Regions from separate parts of the Homo sapiens genome. Here region 2 is linked to region 1. The links come from fine-mapping of genetic effects on gene expression. A gene starts in region 1. The other region holds a variant in brackets. All regions are shown on one strand. Distances are between the middles of the regions. Region 1 holds the start of SYT17 (synaptotagmin 17). Region 2 overlaps SYT17 (synaptotagmin 17).

Evidence for each region.
Region 2: its variant is fine-mapped to the expression of SYT17 in whole blood (TOPMed, PIP 0.98).

Annotation. Positions count from the first base shown.
Region 1 is chr16:19,159,675-19,175,348 of GRCh38, reverse strand. It overlaps SYT17 (synaptotagmin 17), which reads right to left and starts at 7,109. Exons shown (of 8, transcript NM_016524.4): 1 at 6,688-7,109; 2 at 2,572-2,589; 3 at 1,771-1,919. The coding sequence starts at 6,702. RefSeq lists an enhancer at 6,525-7,272 and a silencer at 7,464-7,713.
Region 2 is chr16:19,202,353-19,218,026 of GRCh38, reverse strand. The region is part of intron 5 of SYT17 (synaptotagmin 17); the gene reads right to left. Among named protein-coding and RNA genes, the nearest start is that of SYT17, 42 kb to the right of the region's middle. The variant A/T (reference allele first, on the strand shown) is at 7,511.

The DNA of each region.
Region 1 (15,674 bases):
GTTGCTTTCACCAAAAATCTCAACTCTACACACACCTGTAGGATTCAGGCCACAACTTATGAATAATGAATAATGGAAGAGTTCTTTAACATTGTGTTTGTATCAGTTTAATTAATCTCTATTGAAACCTAATACTGACAGAAATAAATGCTTATAAAACTTTTGCTCTGTGCTAAGCATATTATATGCATATCTCATTTATTTATTTATGTATTTATTTTTGAGACAGGGTCTCATTCTTTCCCAGGCTGGAGTGCAGTGGCGCAATCACAGCTCACTGTAGCCTCAACCTCCTAGGCTCAAGCGATCCTCCCACCTCAGCCTCCAGAGTAGCTGGGGCCACAGGCACACATCACCACATCCGGCTAATTTTTTGATGTTTTGTCGAGATGGGGCATGGGGGGGGTCTCACTATGTGGCCCAGGCTGGTCTCGAAATCCTGAGCTCAAGTGATCCGCCTGCCCTCAGCCTCCCAAAATGCTGGGATTACAGGCATGAGCCACTGCGCCCAGCCAGAGTTACTTACATGTATGATCACCAACAAAGTATCAAGCATTCCTAACTACTTTTCCACATTCCAAATTCATTGACTCCCTTCGACAACTCTGAGAGAAATACTATTCTTTTTATCATCCCATTTCACAGATGGGAAATCAAGGCACACAGAGATCAAACCACTTGCCCAAGGTCACAGAACTCGAAATAGTAGTTGAGACCACAGAGCCTGGATACAGAACCATTTTGCTATGGAAATATTTGATACTTGCTTCTAAGAAGAGAAAATGAGAGGCCTGAGGCATGAGCCCCCAGCTTGGAGGGAAAGATGGGACACCAGAGACTTTTGGAATCTCAGGCCAAGGACTGAGCTGAAACAGCGCTGCCTCCTTCCACTCTGCCAGGCTCCAGCTGTGGGTCCTGGCCGCTGTCTGTCTCCCTCTCTGGGCCTGCCCCTCCGAAGCATGACAAGCTCACTTGATGACTTCTTGATCCTTCCCAGCCCCGACCTTCTTGACTGTACCCAGGCTCTCTGACCACGTCCCTCTCTCAGTCACGGAGAGGTGGACCAGGCACGTGGCTGAGAAGCTTCAAAACTGCGTTCCCAAAATATCTGAGCGACTGGCAGATGGAGATGTTGTATGCAGGCGCGGGAGGAGAGCAAATTAGAAATAAAACGAAAGATGCCAGAGAGAACATAAACAGCGTTGGAGGACAGGATGGAGCCTGGAGGTGCTTTTCTGCTTCCCTGTTTCTGAAGTTCTTGTTCGGAGCAGCAAAAAGGCACTTGTTTGTTCATTCCGTCTACCCATCCATGCAATGGATATTTATCGAGCTTTTACTATGTGCAGGCCCTGGGCTAAGTGCTAGGGAATCTTGTCACGCTGACTTGGATGGAAACCCTCAGAATGCGGTCAGCCCCTGAAGAATATAGAGGCTCGGCTCACAGATCTCCTTTTCTGCTCGGAACCACGCTCCACGTGACTAAAAACGCCCACACGCTTAGCATTACACGGTTCGTATCTCAGAAGGCCCGATGTGCCACTAGGTGAACTAAAACCACACCACCAGCTGGTCTCGCCAGCTTGCCGAACAAAATGAGGGGTACAGAACATATCCCCAGTCTGCAGCAAAGTTGTCCCTGGAAACTCAGCCTGCTTCTCTTTCATGCCCCCAAATCCTCCCTCCCGTGGCCCAGACCCCCAACCCGCCTTCTCATTAAAAAGGAAAAGTCTTGAAATTGATTTCAGAGAAGTTCAGAGCAGTTTTACTTACAGCCAGGGAGGGGTCTGAGCAGGGAAAGGTCCCAGAATTTCAACTTCATCCTCACTTGACTGGCAACAGCTGGACTCGTAGCACTTCTGACAGCAGTGCCGGCAGGTCCATCTGCACAGCAGCAGACCAGAGATTCTAGAAAGAAAACCCTGAGGCCATTGGGGGAGGTGGGCGGGGGGATGGGGGAGAGGGGAGGTGGGCAGGGTGGGGAAGAGGAAGAGGAGAAACAACACCCAAAATTACAAGCAGCCGATCTCGGATGAGAAATAGACATTCAGGAGTTCTGGCTCTGCTGCTCAGCACTTAGAACAAAATGTTTTCCATTTCTATTTACCAACTGCAGGCACAAAGATAGCAAACATCAACTCGCTGGAGCCGTTAGTAGCAAGCAAAACATTTGCAGGTATTTTCTTTTGTAGTTTATGTGAACGTCTTTCTTGACATGTGGGTGGTTTATACAACATCATAAGGGCTATACGATATGTTCGAAACACAATGAATATTACTGTGTCTTCTTGAAAGCAGGGGAAAAAATATTTTTAAAAAATCTCGGTGACATGAAACAGACAGAGATAATCAAACGGAATAAGTAGGGGTGGAGAGGGAAACTTGTCTTGTCAACTGGTGTCTTTTCAAAACCGGGATCTCCTTTCGGTAGAAAGGAATGGAAACTGTGCCGTTATTAACACCAGGTTATTGTTGAATATTCAATATCCCCACAGCCCCACATAAGACTCCAAAATGAAAGTCAGGCATTTCTTGATTAGAAACCAGACCAAACAAATCATCAAATGAACCCACCTCGTTTAATGGTTCCAACTGCCCTTTTAAGATCCACGATGAAGCCAAGGGCGTAAGGGAACGAAGGGGTTAAAGAAAGAGAGACAAGACCAGTTTAGCAATATTCCAGCAACTCAAAAAAATTTTACAAAAAAAAAAAAAAGCCCTGCATATTTCCACTTACCATCCTGGGAAGGGAGCTGACTTCCTAACATCCTAACAAGGTGTTGCTATTTTCAGGGCTGCTGGTAGCCTCCTGGTTAACCAACACCAAATAAATGGGAAACTTTAGCATTTCGATTTGATTTGCACCGTATGCTGTTATGAATCAGAGCGGGCGGATAGATAGTCATGCTATCCAATGCAGCCACACTTCAGGAGAAGAGCAAACCTTCCTATACAGAAATAGCCATGTAGCCAACCCAAAAGGACATGATTAGCTAACATGCAGGCAGGCACACAGTGGATGTTACTTGGCTCCCCCGCCCTCCCGGAGGCCCTACCTTCCAATTCTGCTCCAATGGTGATGGTGGGGTGTTTCCTATCACCACCCACAAATAGAGGGAACTAAAAAGGAAGCCCTAATCTGGTCCTCTTGAGGAAGGAGGTCCTCCCTTCCTGTTGTGGCCCCACCCCGCCTCCCCATCTTCGTCTCCTGGGTTCTCAAGGCACAGACTCCCTCCTTCTCTTTAAGGTGGTTTTCCAAATGGGCCAAGTAGGCTAGATAGGTTAGAAGTACTGCATCCCAACCTCGGGCATGTCCCAGAGGTGAACTGAGGTGGGACTCAAACTCAGAACTTTGAATCAAGAGGGAGAAAGTTATTATCTTTTTTCCGATTCTCCTTTAAGGAGGAGAAAGTCTCAATTTGGTACCACTACATGTTAACATCTTTTACCACTTACCAATTTCCACCCTCCCCCATCCCCTTTCTTTTAAACAAAGAAAGTAGATCTTGTCCAGAGGCTTGGAGACAGCCACGTCCACCTAGAATTCAGTAATGTGGCATTATTCCCATTGGGTTTATTCTTCTAGTTGCCTTCTGCGATGTCACATGATCTTGGTTTCCTATGATATTAGTGACATAATGTTTCCTTTTCATATGATTTTTTTAAAGTAAAAATAAAAATGAGCCCATTTATAGAAAAAAAATTAAGTTAATAATAGCATAGGTAGGGCTGGGCGTGGTGGCTGATGCCTATAATCACAGTACTTTGGGAGGCCAAGGCGGGTGGATCACCTGAGGTCAGGAGTTTGAGACCAGCCTGGCCAACATGGTGAAACCCCCTCTTTTCTAAAAATACAAAAAATTAGCCAGGCGTGGTGGCAGGCGCCTGTAATCCCAGCTGCTGGGGAGGCTGAGGCAGGAGAATCACTTGAACCTGGGAAGCAGAGGTTGCAGTGAGCCGAGATCGCACCACTGCACTCCAGCCTGGGCGACAGAGTGAGACCCTGTCTAAAATAATAATCATAATCATCATCATCATCATCATCATCATCATCATCATCATAGTATAGGTGGTACGTGGCTTGTGAAAAAATTGAAATCCTCGAAGTGGTAAGGGAATAGCAACAGCTTGGGAAATAGTCAAAGGCACTTATCACAAACTCTCTAAAGCCAAAACTCAAACCATACACAGAACAAGACCCAAAGGTGCTGAGGGGCCACGCAACAAGCTGAGCCAGGAAGTACTAGAGTCCTAGTCTCACCATCGACTGATCATGTGACTTGGGCAAGACAGGGGGCCTCTCTGAGCCTCGGTTACCTCTTCTTTAGTGGAAAGGCTACTCTATACCTCAAAGGCGTGCTGTTGAGGTGGGACAGGACACTGACTATGCAAATACTTGCGTGCGGTCCAGCTGAAAAATAAAATGCACCCTTTCTGTGATGAGAATTAGGTGATTGTCAAGACCTAGTGGAACCCAGTAGGCACTGGGTATTGTCCCGGCAGGTACAGCAGGGCACAAAACAGCAAAATATTATACCCTCATAGGGCTTGCATGAAAAAGTGCTTTAGAATGTTAGGATAAAGTGATACTTTTTCATAATAATCTATGACCATTTTCTGAATACAGGGAAGCATTTCCTAGACATGTGGTGGTCAAAAGAGGCCATTTATGAAACCAAAGTGAACAGAGACAAGGTCACCTCATGGCCCTGCTGAAAAACAGCCTCCCCAACTTTCTCAAAGCCCAGGTGCAAGATGAGTGTCAAGGAGCAGAGAGAAAGCAAAGAAGATGAAAGAGGGTGCCCTGACATTCCCAGGCATGCTGAGTCTTTCTGGCATTGGGTCTCCTGGGCTCACGTGTTTGACACCGATGGAAGAGAACCAATTCACACCAGAAAGAAAGAGGAAGAAAGACAACCCATGCATTCTAAACAGAGGTTGGCAAACTAAGGCTCGCAGATCAAAACCAGCCCCGCAGCCTGTTTTGCTACAGCCCTTGAGCTAAGAATAATTTGTGAGTTTTTAAAAGGTTGAAAAAAAAAAAAGATGAATGCCTCTTGACTCGTGCAAAGTATACAAAATTCAAATTTTGGTGCCTGCAAATAAAGTTTTATTGGAACACAGCCACGCCCACTCATTTACTACTGTCCATAGCAGTTTTGGTGCTATAGTCAGAGTGGAATAGTTGTGACAGAGACCATGTGAGCCTCCAAGAGAAAAAAAATAGTATCTGGCACTTTACAGGACAACAAAGTTTAACACCTTGTTCTAGAAGGAAAACCAACATCACTGGGTCATCGCCATATGAGATGCTTAACATATCTACCACAGTCCCCTCTTGAGATCCCACCTTGACCCCTAAGCAGCTATGTGGCCTTGGGCAAGTCACTTAATTTCTCTGTGCTGAAGGCGGCCATTAAGAACTCCAGGAGCCGGTAATCATGTTCATTTCTCACTAAATTGCGCACCCAGAGGGGCAGGAACTGTGCTGTTTTCATCACTGTATCCCCAGTGCCAGCACTTAGTAGGCGGTCGCCCAAGTGTTTGTTGGGCGACTACTCAATAGCCCCTGGACAACATTCAGCACACAGTGGGTGGACAGTAATGTGACCTTCATTGAACTTGAAGAGAAACTGGCGATTCCACGAAAGGGAAGCCAATTCAGGGAATCTAAGGCAGGAGATGAATGGAAGAGGCTCCGCCAGGTGACACAGCACAGAGTTCCCGGCAGGCTGAAGCGTCTGAGGACACGATGAGGGGATATGTGACCCAGAGGGGAATGGGAGGACCAGCAGCACCCCCAGCTGTGGCTGAGGGGACAAGATGTGAGCCAAGATGCACCCTGGACGTGGGAGTCTGTAAGCTTCTCTGCCCAGCTCAGAGGCGCCAGCGCCAGAAGCAAGCAGCTCAACGGGTCTCACTGCGGGTCTGCCTGCTTGACCTTGGCGCTGACCTGCGGTCACTTCCCTTCTTGCAGAGGAGAAAGGTCTTTTCACCAAGAAGCCCGGCCCACCCCTCCGCCCCCTCCCCCCAAAAAAGGCTGCTTAGAAATTATTTCAGAATTATTTCAGCCCAAGGATTCTTGGGGGACGTTTCTTCAAGGTGAAGAGGGTCCACATCTCCCAGACCCCAATGCAGCGGAGTAAAGTAACAGGCTCCCTTCTCTTCACCAGCGCGCCTCTGGCCTCTGGGTGTCCCCCACCCCTCAGCACCCAGTGCCCAGGAGAGACGACGTCCTTGTCCCTCCTGGTCGGAACAGCTGCCTCAGGCTCGCTCCGCCGGCCAATTAGCCGGAGCCGTCACCACGGCAACGGCAGCTGGCGGGCCGGGTGGCTGGCGCGCCCCGGGCCGCCCTCCCCACGGCCCCTCCCCTGGGGTGGGGTGCCAAGGAGAGGGAGGGGGCAGGGGAGAAGAAAAGTCCGCCCCACCCCCCATTCCCTCCCCAAGAGGCAAGGGCGCGCGTTGCAGAGTACACATAGGACCCTCCATCCCGGGGTTTGGGGGTCCCCAGTCTCTCCTCCCGGGGCGCACCCCTGTTGCTGCACAGGTTGCCCGCGCACGGGCACCCTTTTTCTCGAAGCAAGTTTGTGGGAGCCTAGCCGTGGGCCCTCCCTTCCGCGCGCTCCCAGCCGGAGGGGGCGCGGCACCCCCTACCCGCACCCCGGACCTTGCCCCCAGCCTCAGCCCTACCTGGATGTACGCCATTTTCGCCCGCGCGCACTCACTCCGGCCCGGGCATGGCGCCGCCACGGCCACTTTGCCCTCGCCAACAGCGGAGGGGGAAGAAAGCAAAGGGGGAAAGGAAGAAAAAGGCAGCCGGTGGCCCCAGACGTGACTGGCGTGGCTGATGAGCGGCGCCCGCCCCTCCGCCGGCCGCCCCGTCCTTGCCTTTCCCTGCGTTCCGGCTCTCGGAATCGGGGCCGCCTCCCCGGTTCGGAGATATCGGGCGCCCAGGGCCCCCGCCTCGGCCTCCCTCGCTGTCCCGTGCTCCCCACCGAGGCGCTCCCCAGGCTGGAATAAGGCCGGGGCGCCTGGGCAAGCAGCCCGGGGCAGCTGCGGGGACTGCAGCGACCCCAGCGCAGGCGGGGCCGGAGACGCCGGGGCCGGAGCGCGCAGGAGGCGGGGGAGGGGATGGGAATGGGGAAGGGGGTGGGAGGGGGCGGTACACAGGTCAGCCCATCCTGCTGGCACGGGGGCTGGCACCTACCGAAAGCAGCGCCCCCGGGGCAGCCGTGGAGCCGAGGGGACACAGTGCAGCCTGCCATGAAGTCTGCAGCAGGGAGGGTCCTTCCCATCCAGCCCTCTCCCCAAACTGGGTTGGAAAAACTTTATTCCCGCCCCACCCGACGCGCCTAGCACGGTTGCGGTGAGGCTTGCAGAGGCTGCGTGGATGGGAGCCTCAAGTTAAGGTGGGCGTAGGGCGTCCCAAACGGAGGTGCTGCGTCCAGGGCTGCAGGGGGCGCGCGGAGAGAGCGGAGCGCCCCTTTACCCTAAACCTGCCGGAGTTGCGCCCTGGACGCAACAGGTCTAGCGCGGGGCGGCCCGGCAGCGCCACCCAGCGTCGTGCCCGGCCTCGTGCGCTCCTCTGCCCACGGGCAGGCGGCCGCCAGCGAGCGTGCGCCCCGGGGCGTGTCCACCGCCGCCCTCCTGCCTGTCCTCGTGGCTGGGGCGCCCTGGACCCAGAGGCCTCCATCAAACCTCCCAGCCCAAGGCCTCTGGCTCTCCACTCAGAGATTCGAGGTGGAACATTGCCCTCCGCTGGATTTCTTATTTTATTTTATTTTATTTTATTTTATTTTATTTTATTTTATTTTATTTTATTTTATTTTATTTTTGACACAGGGTGTCACTCTGTCACCCAGGCTGGAGTGCACTGGGGTAATCTTGGCTCACTGAAACCTCCGCCTCCCAGGTTCAAGGGATTCTCGTGTCTCAGCCTCCCGAGTAGCTGGGACTACAGGCACATGCCACCACGCCCACTAATTTTTGTATTTTTGGTAGAGAAAGGGTTTCACCATGTGGGCCAGGCTGGTCTCGAACTCCTGGCCTCAAGTGATCTGCCTGCCTCGGCCTCCCAAAGTGCTGGGATTAGGGGCGTGAGCCACTGCGCCGGGCCGGTTTTCTTTTTAATATGCCCAGTCATCTCCTGTTGCCGGACACCAGCTTATCAGCATTTTAATTTTAACCTCCCAGTGCCTCTTTTTCCTCAGTAAAAACAGGAGAAAATCTCCACCCTGCCTATCCTCCAGGGCTGATTTGTGGGAATAAATGAGAAAATGAATATGGGAGTAACAAAAGATGGATATTCAGATGCATATATTTTTTGTCTAAAAATCTAGCAGACCTATACATTTTTTAGTATGATATATTTAGTTTGTAGCATATAGCACGTAACGCATATTGAGTGCTTATGATTCTGCAGGCATACACGCCTCAACACTTCACAAGCGTTATTTCATTTCAACCTGCAGTACCTTGATCACTCCTATTAGGTAGCACCTGTCCAGCCAGAGTAGGCACTCAGTAATTGTTTTTGTTGCCTTATTCACTCTGCTTCCTGAGGGAGGTGCTATGATTATCTCCAATTTATGAGGGACTGCAGCCCAGACAGGTAAAGCCTCTATGAAGGCCTGACAGCTGGTAGCCCAGGGCACTGACATTTGAACCCACAAGTCCAGCAGTGAACCCAAAGTGGCCACTCCTAACCACTTTGTGGTATTTATCCACAATCTTTCTCCAGCACTGATGGCAAGGCATGCCAGGTGGGGAGTGAGCCTCACAGAGGAGGATGCCTATTGGAACGGGTGCTCCTTGGGGGCACTTGAGGGAGTTCGAGGAATTTGCTAGGTGTTCCCATAAGTAAAAATAGTTAACCCTTTTTCACCTGAGGTCAGGAGTTCGAGATCAGCCTGGCCAACATGGCGAAACTCCGTCTCTACTAAAAATACAAAAAATAGCCGGGCATGGTGGCAGGTGCCTGTAATCCCAACTACTCAGGAGGCTGAGGCTAGGAGAATCACTTGAACCTGGGAGGCGGAGGTTGCAGTGAGCTGAGATCGTGCCACTGCACTCCAGCCTGGGTGACAGAATGAGATACCATCTCAAAAAAAAAAAGTTAACCCTTTTTGAGGTCTGTGTACCAGGCACTGTTTTCAGCCCTTTACACAAATTTTGATCTTTTAATTCTCTGATTACCATGAGGTAGGCACAAGTACTATCCCACTCTTTAGGTGAGAAAAAAAGAGGCATTAAGAGGTGAAGTTGGCCAGGCATGGTGGCTCATGCCTGTAATCCCAGCACTTTGGGAGGCCAAAGTGGGTGGATCACTTGAGGCCAGGAGTTCAAGACCAGCCTACAAAAAGTTTCTTTACAAAATACAAAAATTAGCCCGGCATTGGTGGCTCACACCTGTAGTCCCAGCTACTTGGGAGACTGAGGCTGGAGAATCGCTTGAGCCCAGGAGATTGAGGCTATAGTGAGCTGAGATCACACCACTGCACTCTAGCCTACATGACAGAGTAAGACCCCATCTCGAAAAAAAAAAAAAGAGATGAAGTCATTTGCCCAAGGCGTGTCATGCCAGGCCACTGTTAACTCCTTTAGGAATAGTACCATGTCCAGGAGGCCAAAAAAGAGACCTAGAGACAGTGAACGAGACACAGGGTTTATTGAGGGAACTTACATACAGGGACAATCCAGTGGCAGCTGGCTGGACAGGAGAACCTCTACTGTTTATATAAAAGCATGCAGTTTATGTAGCATTTTCACTTAGCACCCTCCACCTAGCAACTTCCTTTTGGCCCTTTAACCCAAAACAAAGGGCCTCGATTGTTTATATAAAAAACATGTTTATATAAAAAGCATGCAGTTTATATAGCATTTTCGCTTAGCACCTTCTATCTAAGCAACTTCCTTTTGGCCCTTTAACCAAGGGTTTTGGCTCTTTAACCCAAAACCAAGGGCCTCAATTGCCTGTACAGCCTGCATTCCAAGGGATAGGCAGGGGACCCAGACATCCTTCATAGATAAGGAGTGAATCTCCAGGTTGGCCACTCCCGGATTCCTTAGCTCTGAACTGTGAATACACATTCTTCTTAGACCATAGGGTCGTTCGCAGGGTAAGCTAAGTTCAATTATTGCCGTCAAATGTGTCTGCCCTGCAGGGTGTGTGTGGCTTCCAGGAGCTGGGATTCAAACCTAAACCTGAATCCTTTCCCTAGCCCCTGCACCATGTTGCCTAATAATGCCTGATCTTGGAGGAGGGGGATGACCCCGTCCCCAGAATTTTTTGGTACCTTAATCCCTTATGACCTGAAACTGTCCAAGAATACTAAGCACCTCTCGAGCAAAAGAAGAGGTTATTTAAAATGCGGATAATAGAACCTGCCTCTGGTATTATGAAATGCTTTAAATGTATGCAAAGCACCTGGCAAAATAGGTGTTTGATAAATGCTTGTTGAATGAGCAAATGGGTTGCAACAACAGCTAACATGGACACTTTCAACTCTCAGACAACTGGTTATTATGATTGAGTGTTAAGCCCTTCACATTTGTTTTTGTTTCATCCCTACTGGAGCCTTACAAGGTGGGTACTGTCATGGTCCCCAGTTTACGGGTGAGGAAACTGAAATCCTGAGACGAGAAGCAAAGTGAGTTGCCCAAGGTAAACAGGTGACAAGAGACAGGGACAGGACAAAAATGCAGGTCTGGTTAGCAATAAAGTCTCAACTCATCATGGCTGCACCATCGTCAGATGAAAGAATGGACGAGAAATCAGTTTAAGTCCTTCATCAGGGGAGTGTCAATGAGTTCCAGGATCCCACTGCTTTGCAAGCCTCTCCTGCCTTTCACGGGGACATGAAGTCCAGCTTTTCAATGTAACTTGGACTCAGATCAAGGCTGTGCCTGCAAAGCTGGCACCTTTACAGATCTCAATGAAGAAGGCCCCAATCAGGGAGGTAGACAAATGCATGGAATTATATGTGACCTGTGGTGTGATAAAGGGAGGCTCAGGGGACTGTGGGGTTACAGGTGAGGGGCCCCAACCTCGTGTGATGAAGGATCACAGAAGGTTTCCCAGAGGGGCTGACATTAAGCTGAGTCCCAAAGAACCAAAGATGGGGAGTGGGGCTTATTTGGAAGGTCCATGAACTTAGAAAGAAAAAAAGTTGCATCACCATTGTCACCAACCTCCTTCTGAAATTTAGTGTTTCCTTCCATTATGACTGCAGGCAACCAACCAAAACAAGCTTAGCACTTACTCAGGACTTTGTCACCAACAAAGATCATGTGTAGTCTATCTCATTACACTTGCAGTTGTTGCAAATGACTTGAAATTTCATTTATGTTCTTTACTGCTTGAAAATTACAAATAGTTATTAGGCCCACCTCTAAATTGTCTATTTAATGTGTTAACAAAGAAGCAAAGACATGACCATATTTAAATTTGTTTAAATATTTTGATAACTGTATATCAGTGTTCATTATAATTTCATTATCAATCTATGTATTCTATTCTACGATTCTAAAAACATTATTCCAAGAGGGCTCTATAGGCTTTGATGGACTGCCCAGGGTTTCATGACACAGAAAGTAGTAAGAAAGCCCTGAAGGTAGCTTCTGCATTAGCTTAGAGGTGAGAATGGGAACTAGGGAGAGGTGGGTGCCAGGTGTGGCTCCACAGGTAGCAGATGCCACATGTCAGGCGGCCTCCTAAGTTACCCCATGGAAAAGCAGAGAGGATTGTGATCAGAAAGATTTTGGCAGGGCTGTGTGCATGTCTGTCTGTCTGTCCACCTGGCTGTCTTTGGACATGGAGCAGACAAGCCTGGAGGCAGGGAGGCCAGTGAGGAGATGGTTGCAACAATCTAGGTGAGAAGTAATGCGAGTCTGAACCAAGATAATGGCAGTGAGCCAATGGCAGTACCAGAGTGAGAGGTGATGAGGTCATGGAAGGCAAGGAAGGCTAGAGAGATGCAGGTGTGCTGCAGGAGGAGGAGGAGTTTGTGTCTGGATATGAGTCTCAGATATGTATTATCTAGGGTTCCTGGAAGAAGTCCAATTCAATCCAACTTGGGCAGAAAAGTATTTATGGGCTCATTAACTGGAAAGTCCAAGAGCAAATCCTGTGGGCATGGCTGGAAATAGGGATGCAACTGAAGTCATAAGAGCTCACTCTCTATATATATATCCCACCTCTTTACAGCATCTCTCTGAAAATCAGGGTTTTTATATTTTCTTCCTAGAGTAGGTTTGCTTTACATGGCAGGAAATGGCCACTAGTGATCTTAAGTTTATATTCTTACAGTTTATGCTCCAAAAAGAAAAGACTTTTTTTTTTTTTTGAGATAGAGTCTTGCTCTGTTGCCCAGGCTGGAGTGCAGTGGCATGACCTCAGCTCACTGCAACCTCCACCTCCCAGATTCAAGCAATTCTCCTGCCTTCACCCCCCAAGTAGCTGGGATTACAGGCTTGTGCCACCATGCCTGGCTAATTTTTGTATTTTCAGTACAGACGAGGATTCACCACGTTGGGCAGGCTGGTCTCGAACTCCTGACCTCAGGTGATCTGCCCAGAGACTCCTTTTTTTTTTTTTTTTTTGAGGCAGAGTCTCACTCTGTTGCCCAGGCTAGAGTGCAGTGATGCAATCATGGCTCACTGCCGCCTCCAACTCCTGGGCTCAGGCAATCCTCCCGCCTCAGCCTCCTGGGTAGCTGGGATTATAGGTGCTGCCACCACACCTGGCTAATTTAAAATTTTTATTTTGTAGTCATGGAGTCTCGCTATGTTGCTGAGGCTGGTCTCAAACTCCTGGCCTCAAGCAATCCTCCCACCTTAACCTCCCAAAGCACTGGGATTACAGGCATGAACCACTGTGCCCGGCAAGAAAAGAGATATTTATACCAAATCTAATGGAAAACTTCGGGCCCTACTTAGGTCTCATGCCTATTGTTGTCCAGAGGACCCTGTACTCTGCTTCAGTTGGCCTGGACCAAGTGACCAGGTGGACAGGGATGTGTGAGCACCATGAGCTGTGATCCCACAAGGGCTGCAGAGAGGGGAGGAGTTAGTTCTCTAAGAACAGCTGCTGGGAGACAAAAACAAAAAACATGGCCACGATGAGATCACATTGGAACACTCAGGCAGAGATGTGCAATGGGAAGTTTAGATGGTTCTGGAATTCAACCCCTCTTAACACAGAATGACATTCAGAGCTGATGAGCAGGGAATGAGGCCTCCGTCACTTCCTGAAGGTATCCAGGGGCTCATTTTTATCTCCAGCTTCTAAAAGGAACCAGGCCTTTCACCTTCTTCCCTTGAACACCCACCCACCCAGCCCTGGATGGCAGAGACAAGCATATAATAATGGTCTTCTCTTCAGGATCCTTAGATAGGTAGTTAGAGGTGCCAAAGCAAACTACGGTCCTGAAAATACCTATTATAATTAAAAAGCACCAGAATTGCAAAAGCAGCCCCTCGCATCCATACGAACAACACAGATTCTGGTTAGGTGACTTTCTATTTCTGCAATACAGGCTGATGGCACTTGTCTCCTAAGTCAGTTTTAATTATACAGCTTCCCAAACATGCTATTCAGATCTTATTTTAGCTATACCTGTAACCCTGGGCAGTGTTTTTGAATGCCAGGAAAGTAAGAAGGCCCCAGGCTAATTAAATAGCTTAGTCTGAAATAGGAATGGCAGCCTCTTGTTAACTATGATCCCAAGAGCAGACATAACCAAGTAACCCCACATGGAAGTCCGACTCCTTTCATCTCCATCCTCCCCACGGGCTGTGTGGTTTGATAGCAAGAGATCTGACTTGGGCCAGGCGCCGTGGCGCATGCCTGTAATCCCAGCACTTTGGGAGGCCGAGGTGGGCAGATCACGAGGTTAGGAGATCAAGACCATCCTGGCCAACATGGTGAAACCCCGTCTCTACCAAAATACAGAAAATTAGCTGGGTATGGTGGTGCACACCTGTAGTCCCAGCTACTCAGGAGGCTGAGGCAGGGAAATCACTTGAACCCGGGAGGCGGAGATTGCAGTGAGCCCAGATCGCTCCACTGCACTCTAGCCTGGTGACAGAGCAAGACTCCGTCTCAAAAAAAAAAAAAAAAAATCCAACTTCTAGTCCAGCCTTGCTTACGTGATAGCTGTGTGACCTCAAGTAAGTCACTTCACCTCTGTGAGCCTCAGTTTTCCTCATCTGCAGAATGGGTATACTCCCCTACCAGGCTGGTGAAAGATAAAGCAAAAGAGGAAAATATACTTGAAACACTGACATGTAGTTCACGAGTAGTAGTTCTCTGTTTCTTCTGCTTAAAAGCATAAGTTTATTTTTATTTCTTTTCATTTTCTTTTCTTTTCAAGACAGGGTCTCACTCTGTCACCCAGGCTGGAGTGCAGTGGTACAGTCACAACTCACTATAGCCTTGATCTCCAGGGCTCAAGTGATCCTCCCATATCAGTCTCTCAAGTAGTTCAGACTACAAGCACACGCCACCATGCCTGGCTAATTTTCAGTTTTTTTTGCAGAGATGAGGCCTTGCTATGTTGCCCAGGCTGGTCTCGAACTCCTGGGCTCAAGCGATTCTCCTGCCTCGGTCTCCCAAAGTGTTGGGATTACAGGCATGAGCTGATATACCTGGCCCCCTCTTTTTTTTATTTTATAGTTGGAAGAGAAGATCATGTTAGGGAGGAAGAAGGGATAACATGGAAGTTAAAATCCTGGACTTCGGAGTCAGCCTGCCACTTACTAGCTGTGTGACCTTGGACATGCTTCTCTGTGTGGCTCAGCTTCCTCCTCAGTGAACAGGATAATAACAGCCACCGTTTAGTGGAAGTAAAGATTGAGTGGGCCAATCTAGATTTATCCCTTAGCACAGCGCCTGCTACCATTTATTTACTCAATAAATGCTAGCTAGTACTATTTGTTATTTTGAAAATATAAACACATCACACAGACAGGTTATATTATTACTAGCCATTATACTGGTACTTTATTTTCTCTGAACAATTTTCTTGTTTTCTTTGTGGCTCACACCTGTAATCCCAGCACTTTGGAAGGCGGAGGCAGATAGATCACTTGAGCCCAGAAGTTCAAGACCAGCCTGGGCAACATAATGAAATTCTGTCTCTACAAAAAATACGAAATTAGCCGGGTGTGGTGGTGTGCACCTGTTTTCCCAGCAACTTGGGAGGCTGAGGTGGGAGGATTACTTGAGCCTGGGAGGTTGAGGCTGCAGTGAGCCAAGATTGTGCCACTGCACTCCAGCTTGGGTAACAGAGTGAGACCCTGTCAAAAAAAAAAAAAAAAACAAGAAAGAAAGGTTGAAAAGACAGAACAACACATCAGACAGGAGGACAGCCATTCATCAAACTTGACTGTGCATAGAGAGTAGGGAGCTGTGCTATATTCTGGAACTCCTTATTTTCAGACTCCTCACCCAGAGATTGTGATGCAGTAGATTTAGAAGTGAGGTTTGGGGATTTGCATTTCCTAACGAGCTTCCCTAGAGATGCTGATGCAGGTGGTCTAAACTTTGACCTTGACCTTAGCATGCTGGGACATCATTTTGGTGATGTGCACACACTTCCTACCTAGGACGATGCCCACCACCAGCCAGGCTGCACCCGCGGCCCCCTACCCCAAAGGATGTTCCATTGGCTAAAACA
Region 2 (15,674 bases), 43 kb before region 1:
ATAAACAAAAAGAACAAGGTTCAAACTCAGCCCATGGTTAACCCTTACACAAGGTTTCTGGTGATTAAGCAGCAATCCCAGACATCAAGCAACTCAGTATCTATTGGTGGAGAGCAAGGAAGATATAAAAACAAATCAAAATTCCAGGGGCTGCACACCCACTAGGATGGCTATAATAAACACACACACACAAAATCATAAGCAGTGTTGGCCAGGATGTGGTAAACAAGAACGCTGTATACTGCTGGTGGTAATGAAAACTGGTGCAGCTGCTTTGGTAAACAGGTTGGTGTATGACCCAGCAGTTCCATTCCTAGGTGTATACCTAAGAGAATAGGAAACATGTCCACATGAAAACTTGTACGCAGATGTTCATAGCAGCACTATTCACAATAGACAAAAGTGGAAGCAGCCTAAATGTCCATCAACAGATAGATAAACAAAACATCACCTATCTATGCAATGGTAGGTTATTCATTCATAAAAACAATGAAGCATTGATACAATGTAGACAAACCTCAAAAAAGTGAAAGAAGCCAGACACAAAAAATCACATATTGTACAGTTCCATTGATAAAATATCCAGAATAGGTAAATCCATAGAGATAGAAAGTAGATGAGTGATTGCTAGGATCTGGGAGGTGGGGGAAATATGGAGTGACTGTTTAATGGATACAGGGTCTCCTTTGGGTGATGGGAATGTTCCATATGGAACATTCCAATTATGGAATTCCATAATTCCAGAACTGGAATTAGATAGAGGTGATGGTTGCACACCACTGAGAATTTACTAAATGCCACTGAATTGTATATTTAAAATGATTACATTTATACTATGTGAATTTCACCTCAATTAAGAAATAATTGCAAACATATGGAAAAAAGCTCATCATCACTGGTTATTAGAGAAATGCAAATCAAAACCACAATGAGATATCATCTTACACCAGTTAAAATGGCGATCATTAAAAAGTCAGGAAACAGCAGATGCTGGAGAGGATGTGAAGAAATAGGAAAGCTTTTACACTGTTGGCAGGAGTGTAAATTAGTTCAACCATTGTGGAAGACTGTGTGGAGATCCATCAAGGATCTAGAGCCAGAAATACCATTTGACCCAGCAATCCCATTACTGGGTATATATCCAAGGATTATAAATCATTCTACTATAAAGACACATGCACATGTATGTTTATTGTGGCAATATTCACAATAGCAAGGACTTGGAACCAACCCCAATGTCCAACAATGATAGACAGGATAAAGAAAATGTAGCATATATACACCATGGAATACTATGCAGCCATAAAAAAGGATGAGTTCATGTCTTTGCAGGGACATGGATGAAGCTGGAAACCATCATCCTCAGCAAACTAACACAGGAACAGAAAACCAAACACCGCATGTTCTCACTCATAAGTGAGAGCTGAACAATGAGAACACATGGACACAGGGAGGGGAATATCACATACCAGGATCTGTTGGGGGTTGGGGGGCTAAGGGAGGGATAGCATGAGGAGAAATACCTCATGTAGATGACAGGTTGATGGGTGCAGCAAACCACCATGGCATGTGTATACCTATGTAACAAACCTGCACGTTCTGCACAGGTACCCCAGAACTTAAAGTATAATAAAAAAAAAAAAAAAGAAATAATTGTAGGGCTCAAGTATTAATCAGCAATATAAATGAAACCCAAGACAGACTGAAGCACAATCTATTCTTGGGAGGGGCATGGTCAAGGAAGTCTTCATGGAGGAGGAGGCATTTGAGTTAAGCCTTGATAAGTAGGATTTAGTCCAGCAAATATTGCAGGGAAGGGTGCCCCATACAGATGGAACAGAATGAGGGAAGCCTTCACTAAAGCCCCAATACTCTTTGTTGTGTTCTGATCCTGAATTTATCAATATTATTATATAAAAGTTGATATGGTTTGGATGTGTTCCCGCTCAAATCTCATCTTGAATTCCCACATATAGTGGGAGGGGCCTGGTGGGAGGTAATTGAATCATGGAGGCAAGTCTTTCCCATGTTGTTCCCGTGATAGTGAATAAGTCTCACGAGATCTGATGGTCTTAAAAAGAGGAGTTTCCCTGCACAAGTTCTCTCTGTTTGCCTGCTGCCATCCATGTAAGACGTGACTTGCTCTCCTTGCCTTCTGCCATGATTGCAAGGCTTCCCCAGCCACGTGGAATTGTAAGTCTAATTAAAACTCCTTCTTTTGTAAATTGCCTAGTCTCAGGTATGTCTTTATCAGCAGCATGAGAACAGACTAATACAAGGGCCAAGTAACTTATTATTAATAATAAAGTTGGCTGGGTGCAGTAGCTCATGTCTGTAATCCCAGTACTTTGGGAGGCCAAGGCTGGAGGATTGCTTGAGGCCAGGAGTTCAAGACCAGCCTGGTAAACATGGTGAGATGCCCCACTTTGCTACAAAAAAATTAAAAAATTAGCCAGCTGTGGTGGTGAGTACCTGTGGTCCCAACTATGTAAGAGGCAAATGTGGGAGGATTGCATGAGCCCAGAGGTTTGAGGCTGCAGTGAACTATGATAGATCCTTGGCAACTGAGAAAGACCCTATCTTAAAAATAAGTAAATAAAATAAAGCAGCCAAAGATGGTTAATAATTTGGATGTTTGAAATAAATTAGTGAGGATTCTCCTTAGAAACAACATCACCTTCACCCATTTACATTCCTGGTTTGTTGTTGTTGTTAAGTGTTAAAGACAATACTGGTTTCTCCCTCAGAACAGGTGTGTGCTCTTGGCCACTTAGGAGTGGATGATGCCCTCCCCACTTCTACATCAAATAAATTTTAAAAAAAGAGAAATATAATTTTTGGCAAGAATTTGGTATTTCAGAAATAGCACTGCAGTTCCCGTTGAGAAATCAGAACATTGCTGAGATTTACATTTGAGAATTATTGCAGCAGTCCTTTTTGTCCGGGCACGGTGGCTCATGCCTGTAATCCCAGCACTTTGGGAGGCCGAGGCAGGCAGATCACTTGAGGTCGGGAGTTCGAGATCAGTCTGGCCAACATGGTGAAACCCCGTCTCTACTAGAAATACAAAAAGTAGCTGTGTGTGGGGTGGGCGCCTGCAATCCCAGTTGCTCAGGAGGCTGAGGTGGGAGACTCCCTTGACCCAGAAGGCGGAAGTTTCAGTGAGCTGAGATTGCACCACTACACACCAGCCTGGGCAACAGAGCAAGACTCTGTCTCAAAAAAAAAAAAAGAGAATTATTATTATCTTGAATGACATATGGTGAGCAGCGCCATAATTTTCAGGGCTTGGGGGCCTCAGAGCCTTATCCTAACCCAGCCCTGGAGGAAAAGGAGAGTTGCCATCACACTCAGGGTCTCTGCCCCAGAATATGTTGTACGTATGAATAACATCGTTCACTTGGGCATCATAAATGTCGGCTCTAACAATCTAGGGACAAAAATGTCCCTGGGGTGTTCCTGGAGCCAGCATCTTCTCAGTCCTTCTTCCCTAGAAGTATCAGATGCTACATCTAAAAGCTGACGAGGGCCAAGCATGGTGGCTCATGCCTATAATCCAAGAGCTTTAGGAGGTCAAAGTGGGAAGATCAATTGAGCCCAGGAGTTCGGAGCTGCAGTGAATGTTGGTGGTGCCACTGCACTCCAGCCTGGGCAACAGAGCAACACATGGTCTCTAATTTAAAACAAAACAAAAAAAGCTGACCAGGAGCCAGCTGATAAGGAGCTTAGAATGTAGGAACAGAAAGCAGGACCATCTAGTCCAGCAGCTCCTCAACTTGCCCCACTTAGGAAGATCATGAAATTAATGGTGATCTTTACAGACATCCATGAGGTGCTAGGACATCCAACTTGCATCAACCTGGGGTAATTTTGTCCTCTCTGCTGCCACCTCCAGGGACATTTGGCAACATCTGGAGATGTTTTAGTTGTCATAACTGGGGAATAGGGTAGGGTCTGCTACTGGCATCTAGTGGGTAGAGAGAGACCAGGGATGCTGCCAAACATCCTACAAGGTACAAGACAGCCCCCCTCAACAAGGAATGGTCTGGCCCAAAATATCACTAGTGCCAAAGGTGAGAAATCCTGAACTAAGCCTATAAATCTTGGGCTGATTCAGATTTTTTAAATACATAACTGTACCCTGAACAAAATTTTAACAGGAACCGAAGACTTGGAACTTTTGGTATAAGAACAGTTCGTCAGGTGCAGTGGCTTGAGCCTCTAATCCCAACTACTCGGGAGGCTGAGGTGGGAAGATGGGTTGAGGCCAGGAGTTTGAGGCCAGCCTGGGCAACAAAGCAAAACCTTCCCACCTTCCATTTCTAAACTTTCTTTATTTTTATTTTTTAATTAGCTTAGCATGGTGGCATGCATCTGTGGTCCCAGATACTCAGGAGGCTGAGACAGGAGGAATGCTTGAAGCCAAGAGTTTGAGGCTATCTGATGCGAGAAGCTCCTCTTCAAAGGTTTAGCTTGTTTAGTTTCCTTGTTCTTTGTTCTCTACTTTTAAGGCCAAACTTCCTTGCTCTCTGTACCTCCCTGTCTTGGTTTCAGTAAACAACTCTTCCACTGGTCCTTATCTACAGAGCCTACATCTACTACCCACTCTGTAAATTACCCCTCCCATCACAGCAGCTCTTCCCACCAAAACTGTCCTTCCTGCCAGTGTAACCGCATTCCCGCACTTTCCAAGTTAGCCAACCAGGTTCAGCTTAGATTGTGTGGTCCAACTCCAACCTGTGGAGGCAGGACACAGTAGCAGGGACAAGCTACGTTAGGGATAAAAACCCCTTCCCTCCTTTGTTCAGTGCACTCTCATGATGACTAGACCTGTGAGAAACACCTTCCTACAGAAGTAAATTTTGCCTTACTGGGAAATCCTTTGTTTTAGTGCTCATTTTCTTTGTGACACTGCACATTTGTTTCTAACAAGGCTTTAGTAAGCTATGATTGAACCCCTGCACTCTAGCCTGGGAGGCACAGCAAGACCCTGTCTCTTAAGAAGAAAGAAAAGTCTATTCACTGCCTCCACTGAGTCTGTCTTCAGTCCCCTCTGGATCTGAAGAGGCCAAAGCACCAGCCACAATCCAGAGCCCAGAAAGATCCAGCTAAGATTTCCTTCCTTCTTCTTTCTCCTTAAGCCATTCTTTTTCACTGCAAAGTGGACATCCAAGCACCAAATACAAAAATCCTCCTAGGAAGTGGGTTCAGCCCTCCCAAGGAAAATGGATTGCTTGTTCTGGTAGGATCTCCAACTCTGTGAAGTCTTCCTTATCCAAATTTAGTGAGATAAGATTGGAATGTCAGAGCTGAAATAATTTAGACCAATATTCTGGTTTTCTAAAAGAAAACGGAACCATGCCATTACCTCACTTCCCCGTTTATTTCTTATTTATTTATTTATTGTGACAGGAATCTCGCTCTGTGGCTCAAGTTGGAGTGCCCTGGCACAATCTTGGCTCACTGTCGCCTCTGCCTCCTGGGTTCAAGTGATTCTTGTGCCTCAGCCTCCCGAGTAGCTGAGATTACAGGCATGAGCCCCCATGCCCAGCTAATTTTTGTATTTTTAGTAGAGATAGGGTTTTACCATGCTGGCCAGGCTGGTCTCGAACTCCTGACCTCAAGTGATCTGCCCACCTTGGCCTCCCAAAGTGCTGGGATGACATGTGTGAGCCACCATACCCGGCCTCACTTCCCTGTTTAAAACCCTCCATCTCTCAAAATAAAATTCAAAGTGCTTAGCCTGGTCAACAACAGGGTTTGTCAACCTCAGCACTATTGCCACTTTGGGCTGGAGCATTCTGTGTTGTGGGAGCTGTCCTGTGCGCTACAGGAAGTTTAGCAGCATCTCTGGCCTCTACACACTGGATGCCAGCGGCATCACCCCTCTCCCCAGTGGTAAAGTCTCAGAATGTCTCCAGACATCGTCAAATGTCCACTGAGGGCAAAAATCACCCAGTTGAGAACTAATGGTCTCTAAAATAATTTATCTACGGGATCGAAATGATTTGATCCAAATGATTTGATTCCTGCCTACCTCTGAGACTTCACTCACCAACCGCCTCTGCCTTCTTTCTATTCTTTAAAAATACAAGATCATTGGCCAGGCACGGTGGCTCACACCTGTAATCCCAGCATTTTGGGAGGCTGAGGCGGGCGGATCACGAGGTCAGGAGATCGAGACCATCCTGGCTAACACAGTGAAACCGAGTCTCTACTAAAAATACAAAAATATTAGCCGGGCTTGGTGGCGGGCGCCTGTAGTCCCAGCTACTTGGGAGGCTGAGGCAGGGGAATGCCGTGAACCCGGGAGGTGGAGCGGAGCTTGCAGTGAGCTGAGATCCCGCCACTGCACTCCAGCCTCGGCGACAGAGCGAGACTCTGTCTCAAAAAAAAAAAAAATACAAGATCGTACCTGCCCCAAGGCTTGAACTTGCTATTCCCTGGGAATCTCAACTCAACAGTCACCTCCTCATCTAAGCTTCCCATTAACACTCAGTTGAAAACACCCCTCTGCCTCCATCATTTCCCATCACACCACCTTGTCATTTCCTTCACGGTACTTGGTCCTTACCTTTTTCTCCATAAAGGCAAAGAAAGTGCCCATGTGTCCACTACTATATTCACAGCACCAGAAACAAATCCAAGATCAAGCAGTGCAGCCCCCAACACAGAGGCTGAGCTGCTGCCACACCACGGGCCGAGAGGGGTTGTCAGCACGATGTTCCACCCCCTGTCCTATCCAACCCCCACAGAATCGAAGCCAAGACAGGAGAAGGAACTGGGTGACAGGCCCACTTCTACCTCGTCCCTTGTGGAAGCGATGTCACAAATAAACAGGCCTCATTTCCTTTCTTGTAAGAGCCCGATGCGCTTAATTTGGTCGAACCACGTGGGGTGGGCTAGGGAGAACCAAAATAGACAATCTGTAAATTACTCAGATGAATCCAGCAGCCGGCTTGGGCAAATGTGGCTCAGCTCTCTCCTCTCTACCCAGACAAAAATTCTCTCTCCCGGCAGCCTTTCAACACAGTTAATTTCTAATCAATAAAAAGGAAATCAAAGAAAATCATCTGGGACAAAAGACATTTTCTGGAGATAGCAAGAGCCCAGCTCTCCTCCTGACAGGTTTGCTTTGAACTCCTTCTCTATGGTCCTTTCGCTCTCTCTCACCTAGCAAAGGGTTTCAAATGTGCGCACACAAATTTTAGTGAAGCCCAAACACAGCTGCTCTGCGCCCCCTTATGCCTTTGCTCTCACCGGTTGGATAAAGTCTATTGTCTCTTAATCTGCTGCACAAACAACATTAAAATAGAAATGGATTTTTTAAAAAGCAAACTCCAACCGCAATGCCAGTGCTTTACACATTTCATCAAATGCTTTCACTTCCTTTTCTTTCTTCTTCTTTCTTCTCTTCACTTTTTTTCCCAGTCTTTGTCAATACCTCAACCCTGTATTTGCATAGCTGCATTGACAATACAGTCACATTCTGAAATACCCTTTAAGAAAA[A/T]AAAAGGGTATTTAAAAAAAAAAAATACCCTTTAAAAAAAAATACCCTTTTAAAAAAAAATACCCTTAGATCAGAGGGGAGAGGATAAAGAGAAGTGGGTTAAAGGGTACAAACATACAGTTAGTGAGAAGGAAAAAATTCAATGTTTGGGGCTGGGCACGGTGACTCACGCTTGTAATCCAAGCACTTCGGGAGGCCAAGGTGGCAGGATCACTTGAAGCCGGGAGTTCAGGACTCCTGCCTCAAGCAAGACTCCGTCTCAATTAAAAAATAATAATAATAAATGTTTGATAGTAGAGTAGTGTTACTATATTTAACAAAAATGTATTGTACCAGAATGATAGAAGCCCTAAATACTATGACTTTATCACTATATATTACATATGTAACAAAATTTCATGTGTACCTCATAAATTTGTACTAATAAAAATAAAATAATAAAATATAATAAAACTAAAAGAATTACACACACATTTTCCATGTGACTATCTAGACATTATAAGTGTCATTATAAATGTTCACATACAACATTCCATTAGGCTGAAATACTGTAACTTATATTAACCATTTTCCTATTGCTAGATACTTAGGGTTTTTTGTTGTTGTTGTTGTTGTTTTTGTTTTGTTTTGTTTTGTTTTGAGACAGAGTCTTGCTCTGTCTCCCAGGCTGGAGTGCAGTGGCACGATCTCAGCTCACTGCAAGTTCCGCCTCCCGGGTTCACGCCATTCTCCTACCTCAGCCTCCCGAGTAGCTGGGACTACAGGCGCCCACCACCACGCCCGGCTAATTTTTTTTTTTTTGTATTTTTTAGTAAAGACAGGGTTTCACCATGTTAGCCAGGATGGTCTCGATCTCCTGACCTTGTGATCCGCCCACCTCGGTCTCCCAAAGTGCTGGGATTACAGGCGTGAGCCACCGCGCCCAGCCGAAATGTTGACTTTCTATGTGAGTGCAATGCCCTTCCTCCATAAGCCCCCAGTGAGGCTGACAAGCTGCATTTCACACTGGATTATATTGGTCTGTTATTGTCAGGCTTTTCATTAGTCTCATCTGATGGGTATCTTGTGGGTTTAATCTGGGTTTCCCTGACTGCTAAAGAGGTGAGCACCTTGTTGTGTTATCAGCTACTTATGCTTTCTCATCTATGAAAACCCTGCTCATTTCTTTTTGATCATTGTGTATTTGTCTTTCTCTTATTAATTTCTAGAAGGGCCTTTAAGTATTATGGATACTATTATTCAGCAATTACATGTTTTTATGGGTTGAATTATTTCCCTCCCCAAAATTCATATTTAATTTCCAACCCCCAGGATCTCTGAATGTGACCTTATTTAGAAATAATGTCCTGGCAGGGTGCAGTGGCTCGCGCCTGTAATCCCATCACTTTAAGAGGCTGAGGCAGGCAGATCACTTGAGGTCAGAAGTTCGAGACCAGCCTGACCAACATGGTGAAACTCCATCTCTACTAAAAATACAAAAAATTAGGCAGGTGTGGTGGTGGGTGTCTGTAATCCCAGCTCCCTTGAACCCGAAAGGCAGAGATTGCAGTGAGCCAAGATCGTACCACTGCACTCCAGCCTGGGTGACAGCGCGAGACTCTGTCTCAAAAAAAAAAAAAAAAAAAAAAAAAAGAAGGTCCTTGTAGAAGTGATTAAATAAGATAAGGTTATACTGGAGTAGGGTAGGCCTTAATCCAATGACTGATGTCCTGATGAAAAGAGGACATTTAGACATGCACACAGGGAGAATACCACGTGAAGATGAAGGCAGAGATCTATAAGCCAATAGACACCAAATATTGCCAGCCAACCACCAGACACTGTGACAGAGGCCTGGTACAGATAATAGCTTTGCCAACACCTTCCTGACATGATTTGGCTCTTTGTCCCCACCCAAATCTCATGTGGAATTTTAATCCCCACATGTCAGGGGAGGGACCTGGTGGGAGGTGATTGGATTGTGGGGTGGATTTCCCCATGCTGTTCTCATAACAGTGAGTGAGTTCTCATGAGATCTGACAGTTTAAAAATGTGTGGCACTTCCCCCCTCACTCTCCTGCTGCCATGTAAGCCGTGCTTTGCTTCCCCTTCACCTTCCACCATGATTGTAAGTTTCCTGGGCCTCCACAGCCATGCAGAACGGTGAGTCAACGGAACCTCTTTTCTTAGTAGTGCCCAGTCTCAGGTGGTTCTTTATAGCAGTGTGAAGGACTAATACACCTCCAATAATTGCAGAGAGTAAATTTATGTTCTTCAAGCCACCAGTTTGCGGCATTTTCTTACAACAGCCCTAGAAAACTAATATATGTGTATAGCAAACGTATCCTCCCAGTCTGTGGCTTGCCTTTTAATCCTTTTTACTATGTTTCCTGATAAGCAGAAGTTCATCATTTTAATGTGGTAGGATGCATCCCTCTTTGCCTTCATTGGTTCATACTTTATTTTCTGACTTTTTAAAGAGGTGCTTTGCTATACTAAGCTCATAAAGATCTTTATTTCCTTATAAAACTTAAAGTTTGGCCATTCATCAGTTCCTGACCATCAGGATTTGATTTTGGTCTGTGTTATGAGGTAAGGCTCCATTTTCTTTCTTTCTTTCTTTTTTTTCCTGTTTTGTTACAGACGGGGTCTCACTGTGTCACCCAAGCTGGAGTGCAGTGGTGTGATCACAGCTCGCAGCCTTGAACTCCTGGCCTCGAGTGATCCTGTTGCCCTGGCCTCCCCAAGGATTACAGGTATGAGCCACTGTGCCTGGCCCCATTTTCATTTTTGAGGGAGTGGCCACCTTGTTCCCTATCTTTCTGCTCCACGAAGCTGTGAGCTCATTGAGGGTAGTGACCTTACATAACTTTCCCCCAATGTTGGAGGTGAGGCCTGGTGGGAGGTGATTGGACCATGGAGGTGGATTTCCCCCTTTGGTGCTGTTCTCATGATAGAGTTCTCAGGAGATCTGGTTGTTTAAAAGTGTGTGGCCCCTCCCCATTCTCTGTCTCTTCCTCCTGCTCTGGCCATATGAGGTATCTCTTTCCCCCCCTTGCCTTCCACCGTGATTGTAAGTTTCCTGAGGCCTCCCCAGCCATGCTTCCTATGCAGCCTACAGAACTGTAAGTCAATTAAACCTCTTCTTTATAAATTACCCAGTCTCAGGTATTTCTTATAGCAGTGTGAGAACAGACTAATACACCTGTAAATATGACTGTCTTAGTCCATTTTGCATTGCTATAGAAGAATAACTGAGGCTGGGTAATTTATAAAGAAAAGAGGATTAAGTGGCTCGTGGTCCTGCAGGCTGTACAAGAAGCATGGCACCAGCATCTCCTCTGCTTCTGGTGAGGGTCTCAGGCTGCTTCTACTTTTGTCAGAAGGGGAAAGGGAGCTGTCGTGTGCAAAGATCACAGGGCACGAGAGGAAGCAAGAGAGATGGGGAAGGCACGAGGCTCTTTTAAACAACCAGCTCTTGTGCAGAACTAACAGAGCAAGAACTCACTTACTACCATGAGGATGGCACCTAGTCAGTCATGAGGGATCCACTCCCATGACCCAATACCTCCCATTAGGTCCCACCTCCAACATTGGGGATCACATTTCAACATCAGGTTTGGCAGAGGAAACACATCCAAACTATAGCAATGGGGGTCCACAGTCCTTATTTGGAAATAGGAGTTTTGCAGATGTAATTGAGTCAAGATGAGGTCGTACAGGAGTAGGGTGGGCCCTATATCCCATAGGACTGGATTTATGAAATGGGGAGAAGAAACATGGACTAAGACACACAGGGGAGAATGCCAGGTGAGGACAGAGGTGGAGGCTGGAGGGATGCATCTCTCAGCCAAGGAGTACCAGGATTGCTGGCAGCCATCAGAAGCCACAGGAGAGGCCTGGGGTGGTTTCTCCTGTAGAGGTCTGCAAGGAATCAACTCGGCTAACACCCTGAATTTGGACTATAAGCCTCCAGAGTTGTGAGGGAATAAATTCCTGTTGTTTTAAGGCACCCAGTGTGTATTACAGTGGCCCCAGAAAACTAACACTCTGGTGGACTAAGACAAAAGACAAAGAGTTACAGACCTCCATTGCAATCCCAGCTCTCCCACATACACTGAGTGTGTGACCTCAGCCATGCCGCTGAACCTCTCTGAGCCTCATTCCTTTCCTCCTAAGAAAAGGAGGACACATACCATATATATACCCCATGAAGTTCTAGTGGAGAAGGCTGATCTTTCTTGAAATGTTTCCGTTTGTTCACATGACACTGTCCGCTCCTGCTCTTCCTCTTACCTTCTAGCTTCTATTTCTTGGTCTCCACAGTTCTTGTTTCTTCTCTCCTGCCCTTAAATGTAGTTTTCCCCAGAATTCAACTCCTAGTCACCTTTACTTTACTTTATATGGTGTTTTTGGCAATTTTCTTGACGCCTGTCATTTCTACTATCACACTGACTATGTAACCCAAATATACTTTCTTTATGAGTTCTAGTCCTGCCTACGCCTTCTTTTTTTCTCTTTCTCCTTTCCTTTTTTTCCTTCCCTTCCATAAATATTTATTGAACATGTATTATGTACCACTAGGGAACAAGACAGAAAAAAATCCCCCTCCTTTTGGAGTTCACATTAAAGTGGAAGAAACATAATAAGGAAATTAATATGTAATGTCTGATAGCAGTTAAGTGCTAGGAAGAAAAACAAAGCTGGCATCGGGGATAGAAAGTGATAGGGCTGCTCTTTAAAAGGAAAGTCAAGGGGCTGGGTGCAGTGGCTCACGCCCATAATCCCAGCACTTTGGGAGGCCGAGGCCGGTGGATCACTTGAGGTCAGGAGTTCAAGACCAGCCTGGTCAACATGGTGAAACGCTGCCTCTACTAAAGATACAAAAAGTATCTTTGTATCTTTGTATCTTTATACCAAAGATACAAAAAGTAGCTGGGTGTGGTGGTACATGCCTGTAGTCCCAGATACTCAGGAGGCTGAGGCACGAGAATCACTTTAACCTGGGAGGCAGGGGTTGCAGGGAGCTGAGATCACGCCACTGTACTCCAGCCTGGGTGACAGAGTGAGACCTTGTCTCAAAAGAAAAAAAAAAAAAAGTCAAGGAAGGCCTCTCTGAGATGGTAACCTGAGTGAAGAAAAGAGGGAGCCATGAAGGTATCTGGGGGGACAGCATTCCAAGGAGAGACATGGTAGTGCAAAGGCCCTGAGGTAGGGCCACTCCAGGTGTGCCTGAGATACCCAGCAAAGTTGATGTGGCCGAAGCAGAGTCCAGGAGGCCACTGACCAGGGAAATAAAGTTGGAGGGAGATACAGGGGCTGAGTCTCATTTAGATTTTATGTTGAATGAGACAGGAAGCCATTAGAAGGTTAGATGCAGGAGTAAGACATGAACTGACATTTATTTTACTGTATTCCCCTGGCTGCTGGGTTGAGAAATGCAATGCAAAGGAATGAAGCAGGGAGACCCATGAGGGGCGTCCTAACACTGCAGGTGAGAAGTGAAGGTGGCCTGGACCTGGTTGTAGGAGTAGAAGGGTTTGAAGGGGTTGATGGGGCTGGCCTGATTTGCTGATGAGTGTAGGCTATGGCTCCTGGGTTTGGGGATAAATGCGGGTGTCACTGATGGATACGGGGAACACCGGCGGAGGAGCAATTTGGGGCAAAATCAACAGTCCAGGGTAGGAGTGAGACGTGAGCCAGCCACTCCAGCAGGCGGCAAACTAAGTTCAGTGTTTCCAAAGCTGCCCTCAACAGAGCCACTGAGGGTGCTTGTAAATACAGATTCCTGGGGCCTCCCAGAGCCTACTTGATCAGATTCTTCAGGGGAGGGGCCTGGGAATCAGAATGTTTCACAAGTGCCCCGGAAATACTGATAACACAGGTGTTTCAAGCCACGGCATCAGATGAGATCACTCAGGGATCTTTAGTTAAGTCCACTGGAAGCCTCCTCAGGGGTGCTCATCCTCAACACCCTGCACCCCAAACTTAGCTCATCAGCACCACCCTGCCCCATCCTCACCTGCTCCTCCTGTCTCACTGTCCAGCACCCCTAACCAGCAAGCACCTCAACGCCGAAAGCTGAGTGAGGCTCTAGAGACCTCCCTCACCCTCTGCCCTCGTGTCGTTTCCAACTCCAAAAAATCCTCCAAGCCCCCCATGCCTGTCCAAAATCACTCCTGGATCCCTCCCCCACCACATCTAAGGTCACCTTGCCCTGTTCTCAAACATTCTCAAATCAGTGGTTCTCAAGGGGGTGATTGTGCCCTGCAGGGGGCATGTGGCAATGTCTGGAGATATTTTGGGTGGTGACAAGTCGGGGAGAGGGAGTTACTAGCATCTAATGGGTGGGGCCAGGGGTGCTGCCCACAGGACGGCATCTACAACACAGAATGGTCCAGCCCAAGGTGTGACGAGTGCCAAAGCTGAGAATCCCTGCTCTAGGTCCACCTCGTACTCTGCTCCAGAAACAGCAACCTCAAATTCAAATCTGACCAGGGCCTCCCCTATTTTTTGTCTTGTAACGGCTCCCATCCCCCTCAGGATAAGCGCTAAGATCCATGGCCTGGCCTGAGGCTTTTCATTCCCCAGCTTCCGCTTCCGTCAATCTTATGTTGCACCATTGCCCACACGGTAAAACTATGTGCCAGGTAAACAGAACATTCCAGACCATCCACCAACCCCCATCCCATGCGCAGCCCACCCACAGCAGGGCAGGTATCCCTGCCACGTGCTTTCCTGTGAGCCTGAGATTTACCTCTTTCAGTGAACACGTGGCTGTTTATTCTACCAGCAGAAACTCCACCCTGTGCCAGGCAAAGGTGCTGCATTGGGCACAGAGCCATGACAGAGTCCCTGCAGCGGAGGGAACCACTCAGGATTCTGGTTTCTAACTGTGGCCTTCAGCCTAGACTGCGAGCCCTTCACTTACCACTTTATCCCCAAGATCCAAGCCAGAGCCGACATATGGGCAACCCCCTAACATGCTGACTAAATAAACAAATAACCACAGCGGAAACATTGACCAATCACTTCTGTACCACACTTGGGGCTGAGCACCTTGCTTCTTATCACATTATGTCATTCAGTTCTCAAAGGGCCCTTCGATGATGGTGCAGGCTCAAGCGATTCTCCTACCTCAGCCTGCTGAGTAGCTGGGACTACAGGCATGCACCACCACGCCCAGCTATTTTTTTTTTTTGTATTGTTAGTAGAGACGGGGTTTCACCATGTTGGCTAGGCTGGTCTTGAACTCCTGACCTCAAGTGATCCAGCCTCCTCGGCCTCCCAAACTGCTGGGATTACAGGCGTGAGCCACTGCGCCTGGCCAAGTGCTTTCCTTTATTTTCCCCTTTAATCTTCACAGCAACCCTATGGGAGAGTTACTGTTATTATCCTCATAATATATGACAGTAAAGGGATCTTTCATGCCTGAAAGGTCCAGGCATGTGCTGACATCACATTGTAAGTAGGTGGCAGAGCCAAGGTGCGAATAGAAAATACATATTGGATCCTCGTCCCCGTTGCTGGCAAAGACCTTCCAAAACCCCTGAACACTTACAGAGGTCGAGGTGGAGGGATAGCTTGAGCTCACAAGCTTGAGATCAGCCTGGGCAACCCCATCTCTACAAAAAATAGAAAAAAATTAGCAAGGCATGGTGGTGCATGCCTGTAGTCCCAGCTATTCTGGAGGCTGAGGTGGGAGGATTGCTTGAACCTGGAGGTCAAGGCTGCAGTGAGCCATCATTGCGCCACTGCACTCCAGCCTAGGTGACAGAGCAAGACCCTGTCTCAAATGAAAATAAAAATAAAATGCCCGGAATCTCCAGAATGATCAGAGTGTCTTTTGTATGTTAATGAGATGACTGGATGGGACTGGTCTTCAGAAAGATCAAAGCATGATTAAAAGGTTGGAACTTTCAGCTGCACTCCCAGACCTCCAGGGAGGGGAGGGGCTGGAGGTTGAGTTCTGACACCAATGGCCAATGGTTTAATCCATCCTGCCCATATAATGGTATCTCCATATAAACCCTAAATGAAGGGATTCAGAAAGCTTCTAGGTTAGCGAATACATCAAGGTGCTGGGAGGGTGCTGTGCCCGTTGAGGGCGTGAAAGCACCACACACAACCCCCTGCCTCATGCCTTGCCCTATGCATCCTTTCTACTTGGCTGTCCCTAAGTTGT